Linked DNA regions of Homo sapiens. The protein of the gene in region 1 interacts with the protein of each later gene in a pairwise test. Each region holds a gene or a part of one and is shown in the gene's direction. Other genes may lie near its edges.

Region 1 (4,387 bases):
CATCTGCCACGTTCTCCCAGGCTTCAGTGTTCTCCAACACATGACAGGGACACCCTCCTTTCATCTATGCAATCTTTATTCTGCAAATATTAATGGTGCCTCTCTTTTGTTCCAGGCACCATGCTAGGTGTGCATGTTGCATCTAAGTTCCCATGGAGCTTGTGTATGTCCTCAATGGTTTTCTCTGTCAACATCTCCCCTCTCCAACTAGATTGTAAGCTTTTCAAAGGCTGGCCATGTTGCCTGTCTTAAACAACAGCCACAGCAAACATTTATTGAGTGTTAGACTGGGCCAGGCACGTGGAGAGCTCCATAAAGCTTAGCACAGGGCCACATCGACTAGTCCCTCAATAAATATTGATTAATTTAAAAAAATACAGAACTGAATTGTCGAGCTGATCATGGGGATGGTGAGGAGCATAGGTAGGGGGTTGCTGTGGTGAAGTCTTGGTAGGTTCACTGTCTCCTGTGGGATGAGATTCAGAATACGTCCATCTGAGGCATCTGTACTTGTATGTCAGAAGCTATGGGGTGAGGTTATTGACAGAGTCTGTTGTGTAAACTTTCTTTGTGAAATATACTACCTTTAAGCTATGTTACGGCTTATAGAACAATGTGGTGTCTACATCTCAGGGGCATTTTAATTCAGGGAAGTGAGTGTTGGGGTGAAATCAGGGATCTGCTTTTCTTTTGAAATATTGATAGAAGGTTCTTTCTGTGCACCTGCACTTCTCTATTGGATGGCGCTGGATGTGGTTGCCTTTTGTGGCTCTTGGTTGCAATACAGTTCTCTTGTTGAAATGACCTCCTTCTGACTGACACATCTGCCCTAGGCTCATCAATGGCTACCAAAGCCAATGGACACCTTGTGGAACATAGTGTGGCATTTCACCCATGGCCTTCATGAAATGTACCTTTTGCGGTCTATGATCCAAGGCTTTTGTAGTTTTCCCTCCATCTTTTTAGTGTTGTTCTCAGTCCCCCTCATGGGCTCTCCAGGTGTTCCTCTATCTCTTCTAAGTTCTCCATTGTAATTGCCACCTATAGTCTCTACCTTCAGTGAGTTAGATGTCTCTCCCCAGCCCCTAGTCCTTGTATCTTTGGACTTCATAGGCAGATGTCTGCATCTGAATAACCCATACCCATCTTAAACTAGTAAATAAAAATGGAATGCACGATCATGTCTCTGTCTCCCATCCTCACCTCTATACCTGTTCTCCATTTAGTAAATGGCACCTCCATGCACCTGCCCAAGTGAGAAGCCTGGGGGTCATCCTTGACCCTCTCCTTTCCCTCGTCCCTCACCCCGTTGTTCTCCAATCCCTGGGATGAGTCTATCTCCTAAATATCTCTTGTATCCCTGTTACCTTCTTCACCTGCCAGGCCACGAAGATCATTCACTCCTCGCCATCTCCTTCTTAGGGCACTGAAATGGTTGCTGAAATTGTCTCCCTGTTTCGCCCTTGCCCACTGGCATTTGTTTCCCACCTCCCTCTTAGAGATCTTTTAAGAAATGCAGATTACGGTTCCCGCCTCACAATGCAAAGGTCAACGGTGACGCCATCTGGAGCGCGCTTGGAATCCAGCAGGCGGTTGCTGCCGCGTCTTCCACAACCTCCGCGGTCTGGAGCTGGCCTCCCCCACCGCCGCCCCAACCACCGGCCCCGCCGCCATCACCACCACCGTCACCTCCGCCGCTGCCTCCTTGGGGCCCTCCTCCTTCACCGCCCCCTTAGCCACCTCTACACATTCTAGGCTTTCTGTCCTGGAGAAGAAGCTATAATCGGTTTCCTTGTGGGCCCGGTGCGCAGCCATGGCGGACGGTGGCGGCGGCGGCAGCGGCGGTGCGGGCCCGGCCTCGACCCGGGCCAGCGGGGGCGGCGGCCCCATCAACCCGGCCTCGTTGCCCCCTGGCGACCCTCAGCTCATCGCTATCATCGTGGGGCAGCTCAAGAGCAGGGGCCTTTTTGACAGCTTCCGCCGGGACTGCAAGGCTGACGTGGACACCAAGCCAGCTTACCAAAACCTGAGCCAGAAAGCGGATAATTTTGTGTCGACACATCTGGACAAGCAGGAATGGAATCCTCCAGCAAACGACAACCAACTGCACGATGGTCTGAGGCAGAGTGTGGTTCAGTCAGGGAGGTCAGAAGCTGGAGTGGACAGGATTAGTTCTCAGGTGGTGGATCCAAAACTAAACCACATCTTCAGGCCACAAATAGAACAAATAATTCATGAATTCCTGGTGGCCCAGAAAGAAGCAGCTGTGCCAGCACTCCCTCCAGAGCCAGAAGGCCAGGACCCTCCAGCTCCGTCTCAGGACACTTCCTAAGAATATGCCTGACAGCTTTTGAAAGCGCTATTTAATTTTTGGTGAAGAAATGGATTCGGTTACATAAGAGTGCAGTTTCAGATTGAAGATAAGCCAAGTTCATCACTGAGCTCAAGATTTCCACCTCGACCATGAGCAGTGACCAGATTGAAAGGGAAGCAAGTTCGCCAGAGAGAAAGTTGACCGTGGCACCCTCCTGCATTGCGCTGCCATTTGGCCAGCCTTTCCAAGGGCATGACACCAAACACACACTACAGAGAGGGAAACACTACCGCGACCCAGGATTGTCCTGAAACAGACATCTATACTTGAACATGGAGACTGCACATGGATTTTAGGGTTTGTGCTCTGAGATAAACGAAAGCTACAGCGAGAGAACATAACCAATCCCAAAGACAATTTCAAAGAACAATGACAGTAAAGGTTAACTGGGAGGAATATTTGACAGTACTTATTTGATATTGTCTCTCAGAGTTGCAAACTAGATTGTACACAACATTAGTGTCAGATAGCTTTGAAGTTGTGACCTTCTTGTACATGAATCTTCTAGCCAGTTTCCTTTCCTTTGTAAGAGATAACAAAGCATGAAACCCTAGAATGAGTGAGAAGTTCAGACATTAGGTATAAGGAAACTCATTTGCAGACTCTCTGTCCAAGAATGCTTCCTGTCTTGCAGGGGCTAGTGAGTCTTGGGTGTGTTTATGTTATGCTCACATTTGTGTTTTATTTGAAAAGTGGATGGTCAATAAATGGCTTATCTTTCAACTGCAACAACAAAAAAGAAATGCAGATTTACATCCTTTTCCTCTTTAAGCTCCGTCAGTTTTCTGATATTTCTAGAAGGTCAGACACCTGGCATGGTTTATGAGGCCCGTGATAATGGGGCCCCTGGTCACCTCTGCTGCCCCGTACACTGTCATTTCTCATATGACAACCATGCCCATGACTATCCTGGACACCCTGTGTTCCCTCTGCTCACTGTGAAGGGAATGCCCTCAACCACTCCTACCCTCCTTTAAGACTCAGCTCCTGAGGAGCCACACATCGTCTAAGCAGGAGTGACAGACTCCTTCCTCTGTGCTCCCATAGATCTCATAAGGGATGACCACACTTACTATAGTAGCTAGGTCTGACGAAGCACTTGCTCTATTGCTCTACAGCTGGCAGTGTACTAAACGCTTAACTTCGCTTACCGTAGTAAGTCCTCATGATCTAATTGAAGAAATCGTATCTTTATTCCCATTTTTATTCCCATTTATAAATGTAGAAACCAAAGCTCAGACACTGCCTAAGTGGTGGGGCTGGGGCTGAGCCTGTATTGAGCACAGAGCCCTCACTTTTAACCCTTTTAACCATGCTTTTAGCCACACCACCTCACCACAGTGAACTGTCTTTGCTTACAGATCTGTCATCCCCACTTAAATGTGAGCTTCCTCCAGGGCAGGGATTTGCTTTGTTCATTTCTTTTCCTTAACCCCAGGACCTAGCACATCACAGGAGCTCAGCAATTTGTAGAAAGAAACCAGTTCTGGATTTGTCTTTTCCAACATTTAATTTCTCAGATGGCAGTATTTATCATCTAAAAAGTGAACAAAAATTAATTTTGCATCTAGTGTCTACATGTCTAAGCAAGAAAGAGCTTTCTTATCCCTGGAGGTATTTTATCTGTAATGTTTACCTATGAGCTATTTTAAATGATTCTTCAAAATTTAGAGTCCAGAAGGTAGAAGACCATGTCCTTTCTGAAAATGTCCCTTCCTTTCCCAGGTACCAGGCTCTTTTTAAAATTAGCTTCTGAATATGAACAACCCAGCTCTTTAAAGTTTAATGTCCCAGCCATTTTAATTGTTTCTTTCGAAGTACAAAAGAGCAGCTGGGCCACATCGGCACTAATCACTTGCCAACTTTCCTTTTTACAAAAACAGCTAAGCTCTTTCTGAGATTTAAAATCACTCCATCTGAGACCCCAGCTTGGCACCTATCTTTGCACTAACATAAAAGGAACCTAATTTCTGCTTTTAAGAAATGTGTTGCGGAAGTGATTTTTGGTTTGGG
Region 2 (3,651 bases), on another chromosome or scaffold:
CAGCCTCCCAAAGTGCTGGGATTACAGGCATGAGCCACTGCACCTGGCCTGCAAAGCCTTATTTCTTTTTCTTTTTTTTTCTTTCGAGACACAGTTTAGACGGAGTTTCGCTCCTGCCCAGGCTGGAGTGCAATGGCGCGATCTTGGCTCTTTGCAACTTTTGCCTCCCAGGTTCAAGTGATTCTCCTGCCTCAGCCTCCCAAGTAGCTGGGATTACAGGCGCACACCACCATGCCCGGCCAATTTTTGTAAAGCCTTATTTTTAAGAGAAGTGAGTACTCAGTTATTTGTAGCATTATTCTTTAGCTCTTGTTTTTTTTTTTTTTTTTTTCAAGACCGAGCCTTGTTCTGTTACCAGGCTGGAGTGCAGTGGCATAATCTTGGCTCACTGCAACCTCTGCCTTCTGGGTTCAAGCGATTCTCCTCCCTCAGCCTCCCGAGTAGCTGGGACTACAGGCATGCACCACCACACCTGGCTAATTTTTTGTATTTTTAGTAGAGACAGGGGTTCCCCATGTTGGCCAGGATAGTCTCAATTTCTTGACCTTGTGATCTGCCTGCCTCAGCCTCCCAAAGTGCTGGGATTATAGGCGTGAGCCACCGCACCCAGCCCAGACTTGCTACTTTTATAGGCTAGAAACGGTTGAATGTCAGCAATGTCATGCTTCAACTGATTATGTCTTAGTGCATAAGAAAGTTTAGAAGAGGGAAAAACGACTCGCACACCTCCTTGTTGAGCTAAAGCCTTGGGGTCAGGCATGAGCCACAGAGTGCCAGGCACACAGTGAGGTGTAGAAGGGCAGGGAATGTGTATTCCATCCTTAGTTTAGGCAGATGGCAACCAGGATGGAATTCTTGGCATCCCACCCAGCCTCAGGGCCTCACACCAGCCCATGTGGATGACCTGAGGGTCCTGTTTCCCATCCCACCCCAGGCGCCCCCAGGAAGCAGCGGCGGGAGCGCACCACCTTCACCCGGAGCCAACTGGAGGAGCTGGAGGCACTGTTTGCCAAGACCCAGTACCCAGACGTCTATGCCCGTGAGGAGGTGGCTCTGAAGATCAATCTGCCTGAGTCCAGGGTTCAGGTGGGGTGGTGGGTCCCTGGACCCCTCCCGACACTTCCTGTGATCTCAGGAGGCCTGCCCGGAACAAAGAGTGATGGGAGGAGGGAGAGATCACAGAGTGACAGCCAAAGTTATAAAGGGGACAATAATCCCTCTCCCCACCATCCCACTGACCGCCTCATGGCTCTCATTGCCCCTCGCTCCTCTCCAGCTGCGCTGGCCCTGACCTGCCTGCCAAGCACCCTCCTGCCTTGGGCCTTTGCACTCAGTTTCCTCTATCTGGAATGCTTATTTCCAGATAACCACACAGCAGGCCCCATCGCCTTGTTCGAGTCTTTGCTTATCCATCAGTGAGACCCACACTGAACACAGCATTTAAAATTGCATATGATTTACATATGGTATCTCAGAGTCTGTTTATTTAGACTCTGTCTCTCCCAACTAGAATGTCAATTCCACTGACGGACACTCAGAGTAGTAGAAAATGGTTAATACATGTTTATTAACTGACTGAATAGACGGATGGATGGATGGGTGGGTGGATGCATAGATGAATGTATGTATGTGTGACTGTAGGTGTGCGTGTGCATGTATGACTGGAAGCATGGATGAGTGTATGTATGTGTATATATGAGTGTCTGTGTGTATGATGGGATGGATACATGTATATATGTGTGTTTGCATGAACGCACATAGGTATGATTAGATAGATGATGAATGTATGCATGCATGATATATGTATACGTGGTGTATGTGCACATGTATGTATACATGCTTGCATGATTGGATGGATGGGTATATTTATTTATTTGAAATGGAGTCTCGCTCTGTCGCCCAGGCTGGAGTGCAGTGGCATGATCTTGGCTCACTGCAACCTCCGCCTCCTGGGTTCAAGTGATTCTCCTGCCTCAGCCTCCTGTGTAGCTGGGATTACAGGCGTGTGCCACCACACCGGGCTAATTTTTGTATTTTTAGTAGAGATGGGGTTTCACCATGTTGGCCAGGCTGGTCTCAAACTCCTGACCTCAGGCAATCCTACTGCCTCGGCCTTCCAGAGCGCTGGGATTACAGGCGTGAGCCACCGCGCCCGGCCGGATGGGTGTATTTATGTATATATGAGTGTATGCATGTATATATGATTGGACTGATAAATAAAATGTGTGTGTTAGTATGATTGTATATAGGTATGACTGGATGGATTAATGTATATGTATGCATGATGTATGTGTGTATGATGTATGGGTGTATAATTGTATATTTGTATGTTTGTATAATCAGATGGATGGATGAACATGCATATGATGTATGTATGATTAGATAGATCCATTAATGCATGTATGATGTATGTGTGTATGACCTATGTTTATATAATTATATGTATAAGATGGATGAATCTATGTATGATGTATGTGTGTACAATTGTATGTATCATCAGATGGATAAGTCTATGTATGATGTATGTATGATCAGATGGACTGGTGAATGTGTGTATGACATATATATGTGTGAGGTATGTATATATGATCAGATGGATGTCTACATAATGTATGTGTGTATGGTGTATGTATGTATAATTGTATGCGTGTATGTTTGTATGCTGTAGGTATGATGTTACATATATGTGCATACACACGTGTGTATGATTGGAAGGATAAATGAAATATGTATGTTTGTGTGATTGTATGCACATATGATTAGATAGATTAGTGTGTAGCTATGTATGCTGTATGTGTGTACAATGTATGTGCCTATAATTGTATGTTTGTATGTCTGTATGATCAGATGGATGAATATGTATATGATGTATGTATGATCAGATAGCTGGATAAATGTATGCATGATGCATGTGTGTATGGTGTATGCATGTATAATTGTATGTATGTTTGCATTAGATGGATAAATGCCTGTAGGTATCATGTATGTACGCATACATGCATGATTGGATGACTGGATGGGTTTATTTGTGTATATATGAGTGTACGCATGTATATATAATTAGATGGATAAATGAAATGTGTGTCTGCATGATTGTATGTATGGATTAATGTGTATATATGTATGATGTATGTGTGTACAATGTATGTATGTATAATTGTATGTTTGTATGATCAGATGGATGGATGAATGTGTATGATGTATATATGTATGATCAGATGGCTCCATTAATGCATGTATGATGTATGCGTGTATGATGCATGTACACTTGCATGTATGATCAGATGAGCCAGTGAATGTATGTATGATGTATATGTGTATGATGTATGTATGTATGATCAGATAGATGGGTAAACGTATGCATGATGTATGTGCGTATGGTGTATGTATGTATAATTGTATGTGTGCATGTTTGTATTAGATGGGTGGATGAATATGTGTATGATGTATGTATGATCATATAGATGGGTAAATGCAGGCATGATGTATGTGTGTATGGTGTATGTATGTATAATTGTATGTGTGCATGTTTGTATTAGATGGATGGATGAAAATGTGTATGATGTACGTATGATCATATAGATGGGTAAATGTATGCATGATATATGTGCGTATGGTGTATATATGTATAACTGTACGTGTGCATGTTTG
Region 3 (3,651 bases), on another chromosome or scaffold:
TCTTGCTCCAGACTTGGCCTCTTCCTCGCCACTCTGTCCCGGCCTCCCGCCCCCGCAGGCTCCCGTGCGGACTTAGCAGTTCGCGCCGTAGCCCTCCTGGTTTTTTACCGCGCCTTGGTCGCGCGGCCCCCGGTGCGGGCCTCGTCGCTCCGACAGCCCTACAGCTGTCCCTACGGCCCGCACCGACAGCTCGTCCCCGCCACCTCCCTCCGGGCTGTAGGGACGTCGAGATCCGAATCCTCACAGCGCCTGACCCGGGGCCGTGTTGGGTACGGGTACGGCGAGAGCCTTCCGAGCCGCCTCCAAAACTCTCCCCGCGGACCTCAGCAGTCCCTCCACGCGTCGGGGCCCTGCTGGCCGGCCATGCCCTCTGAGGAGACGCGGAAAAGAGCGAGGCATATAGGAAGGTGGGGCGTTTTATCCGCCTCGGTTTTGACCCATCTGCCATGTAGTCTCCCCAGGCACCGAGGGAAAGGACGACGGAAGCCCGCCGCCCGGATCGCTGGCGGGAGAGAGGGCAGCCCGCACGGGAGAAGGAGGAGCCCCGCGGGGTCTCCGCTGGGGGTGGTAATTGGAATGCAGGCCTGGGGGTCTCTGTCCCCCTCCTTGTCTCCTAAAATGCTTCCGGCAAGCTCTGGCGAACCCCGAAGCTGTAGGAAAAAGGTATTTTATTTTGTGTTTGGTAGGGTCGGGGTAAAGGTTTTCCCTGGGACTTCCTCTCCTGGGGCTCCTCCGGGGTGCGTGGGGTAATGTCCCAGCGCAGGTCGAGTTGCAGATCCGAGTCCCCGGGGTTGTTGACTGTCCTTCTTGCAGGACATTTCTTAAGGGGGTGAGATGGATTCACTGTCCAAGACAGGAGTTCACTCAAACGCTGGTGCTGTTCGCTCTTCTTTCCATTCCTGCCTTGTCTCCTAGTGCGAGAAACAGACACACACAACACACACAAATTATATATATATATATATATATATATATATATATATATATATATATATATATAATAGATTGAGATTCTATCATATTCCGAACATTCCGATATAGCAGCTGTAGGCACCATAGACCTCCCTCCCTGCGTCGCGAGAATATATTCTCAGGCAGGAGACAATTTTTACAGATGAGGTCAGCTGTCCCCGCCGGCCGATTCGGGCCTGATGGGTTGGGGGTTCCGATGTCCTAACTGCTAGGATCCCGTTCCAGCCCCTGGCCAGAGCTGTGTACCACAAAGAAGGGAGTTTGGAGAAACCCGGGTAAGCGCGGCAGCGCCCCGCTTGGGACAGCGGATGGCTGAGGACTCCCAAGGGGCGAGAGGGCTCCGGCCTCCTCCTTTCCAGGGCCTTGTTATCTGAGAGGGCCGTTAGCACGGAGGGAAGCTTGGAAAGCCGCTGTCCCAGTGCGCTCCGCATGCGGAATTAACTGTTAAAGCCGGACACGGAGCACGCAGGTGCAGCAGGTGAGGGGCAAAGGTCTGCATTGAGCAGTCCGCAGTGTCCCGGGAAGTCGTAAAGTCGGGACTGAGAAGAAGCAGGACCTAACTCAAGTTTATTTCCTCTCTTGGCCGAGGTCCGGGCTCGTGGAAAACCAGAGCTAGGCGGGGCTACGCAGGGCTGAGCAGGAGTGGCGTCCTAGGGTCTGGGAGCGCGACCCACATGACCTCGCTACGACCGGGGCAGGGCTCCTCCGCCCCGCGGGCAGATGCCGGCCTGGGTGGCCCGGGGAACAGACGATGAATTCTTTAAATGAGCGTTTGCTGCGCACCCATGGGCGGCTCACGATCCTGGGCACTCGCCCGGGAATCCCGGGCGTGCTCTGGGTTTTGGGGGACTCGCCGGTGGAGGTAGATGTGGACAGGGCGGCCGGCCCTTCGCGGGTAGCCGGCTTTGCGCTTACTGCGTCCCGCAGCGGTGGGTAAAGGTCGTAGCCCAGAAGGGGACAAGGGAGGGACCGCCTCTCTCTCCCCGGTGCGCTGCAATAGAGGTTCCTGCGCCTTGGCCCTTGCAGTCCATCCGCCCAGAGGTTCGCGCCCGTTTTCGGAGCTTATTATCTCAGGTAGCCCAGAGGTCCGACTGAGCTGGAATTAGCCAGGCCTGGGACCCCTTTGCTGCCCTTTAGAGTGGTGGCAGGGACTTTTCCAGCAAGGATAGGCGCGGCAGGCGCGAGTGCGGACGGCGCGCCCATTAGGAGGAGGCCGGGTGAAAACCTCTCTTCCTCTCCAGACCCATTTCGTTCCAAGCATTTGGAATGACAAAATTAAACCCCAACCCTGGCGGCTCGAGTCTAATGTGACTGTTTAACCCTGGGAAAGCGATGCTCCCATTTTCGAAGGGGCTCCTCCTCTTCGGAGCGGGGAGGCCGCCGGCGGGTGTGCCCGGCCCGCGCGTTCTGCGGGTGTTCGAGCCTCGGCTCCCCACTCGGTTCCGCAGCTTAGTGGACCTTGACGAGCGCTGGAAACGTGTCAGGCTCCAGAGAGACAGAGTCTCTACCTAGGCGGCTGAGGATGTCAATTAAAATCGACCAGGGAAGGGAGTTGGCGGCACTGTGCGCCGCCGGGGAAGGCGAGGTGGCGCGGGCCACCGGGTGCACTCACCGCACGAGAGGCCGCGGCTGGACTGGGACCGAGCGCATCCCTGTGTCTCAGGGGGTTTGCTTTGTGCAGGATGGGACCTTATTATTTTTAGACAGTGGGGCAAACGTGTCTTTTAAAGAGATCCGAAGGGTGAAACTAATGAAAAAGGAAATGAATTACTAGAAAAGCCGTGAAGGGATAAAACCGGGAGCAGCAGGAAGTTGAAGGAAGGACGACCGAAGCTAGGTGTATCTGCACCTGCCTCTTGACACGCCAAAAACAAAGGGGGGTTAAGGCAAGAATGTAGACTAAATGCTGTGAGGATTAGGGTAACGCGAGCCCTCAAGACGTCTCGGAGACCGCCTACAGGGCTGCAAATACCAGGGTCCATTTTTAAAAATCGAGTGCTCCTAGAGGTGGGGTGGGGGTGGGAGAGCCGGGAAACCAGCAAAGCAATTTCTTTCCATTGAGTAGACAAAAACTTGGGCCACAGGGGCATCTTGTATTTTGAACAGTGACCCGATGACCCCGCTGGCCAGGTGTAGACAGCCTCAAGTCCTAAATATTTGCATTGTCCTAACTTCCCAGTTGCCTCGGATTTTAATGCCCTTTCACTCTGCGTTACAGTCAATTAGTGATTACTTAGCATCCACATTAGTAGACTGAAGCCAGAGACCCCAGTGCTGGGAGGAGAGGAGGAGCCGGGGGAAGGAGGATGGGGCTTGCAGTCCTGCAGGGATGGAAAATTAGTTAACAGGAATTAACTGTTCTTTCTATTACCTTGTTATGAAATCTGCTTTGAGCTTCTTGTTTTGGACGGGAATGGTGGGTATTTAGTGGATTTCTCTGGCTGGGAAACTTGTGTCCTCTTCCTATTGAAGAGTTGTGGATGGGGGGCGGGTAGGTGGAATCGGATAAAGGGACCTTGTGCCTTTTCTTTCAATTAAGGAAATTTTTCAGGAATAGAGCTGAGGAGCTTTGGGACGCATAGGGACTTGGAACCAGTTTAGCTGAAGAGAGGACAAAAGGAGTAATATTACCCACTTTGAGAAACCCACGGTTGGAGACAGACTGAAGCAGCAGTTTGC

What was found.
Region 2: the proteins of BOD1L2 (region 1) and CRX interact in binary tests that used the Homo sapiens proteins (3 or more experiments, as listed by UniProt).
Region 3: the proteins of BOD1L2 (region 1) and LHX4 interact in binary tests that used the Homo sapiens proteins (3 or more experiments, as listed by UniProt).

Annotation. Positions count from the first base shown.
Region 1 is NC_000018.10:57,145,500-57,149,886, forward strand, and holds the start of BOD1L2 (biorientation of chromosomes in cell division protein 1-like 2), read left to right. Parts: upstream 1-1,587; 5' UTR 1,588-1,813; coding exon 1,814-2,332; 3' UTR 2,333-4,387. UniProt on the Homo sapiens protein: May play a role in proper chromosome biorientation through the detection or correction of syntelic attachments in mitotic spindles.
Region 2 is NC_000019.10:47,835,309-47,838,959, forward strand, and holds part of CRX (cone-rod homeobox protein), read left to right. Parts: intron 1-934; coding exon 935-1,086; intron 1,087-3,651. UniProt on the Homo sapiens protein: Transcription factor that binds and transactivates the sequence 5'-TAATC[CA]-3' which is found upstream of several photoreceptor-specific genes, including the opsin genes.
Region 3 is NC_000001.11:180,233,222-180,236,872, forward strand, and holds part of LHX4 (LIM/homeobox protein Lhx4), read left to right. Parts: intron 1-3,651. UniProt on the Homo sapiens protein: May play a critical role in the development of respiratory control mechanisms and in the normal growth and maturation of the lung. Binds preferentially to methylated DNA.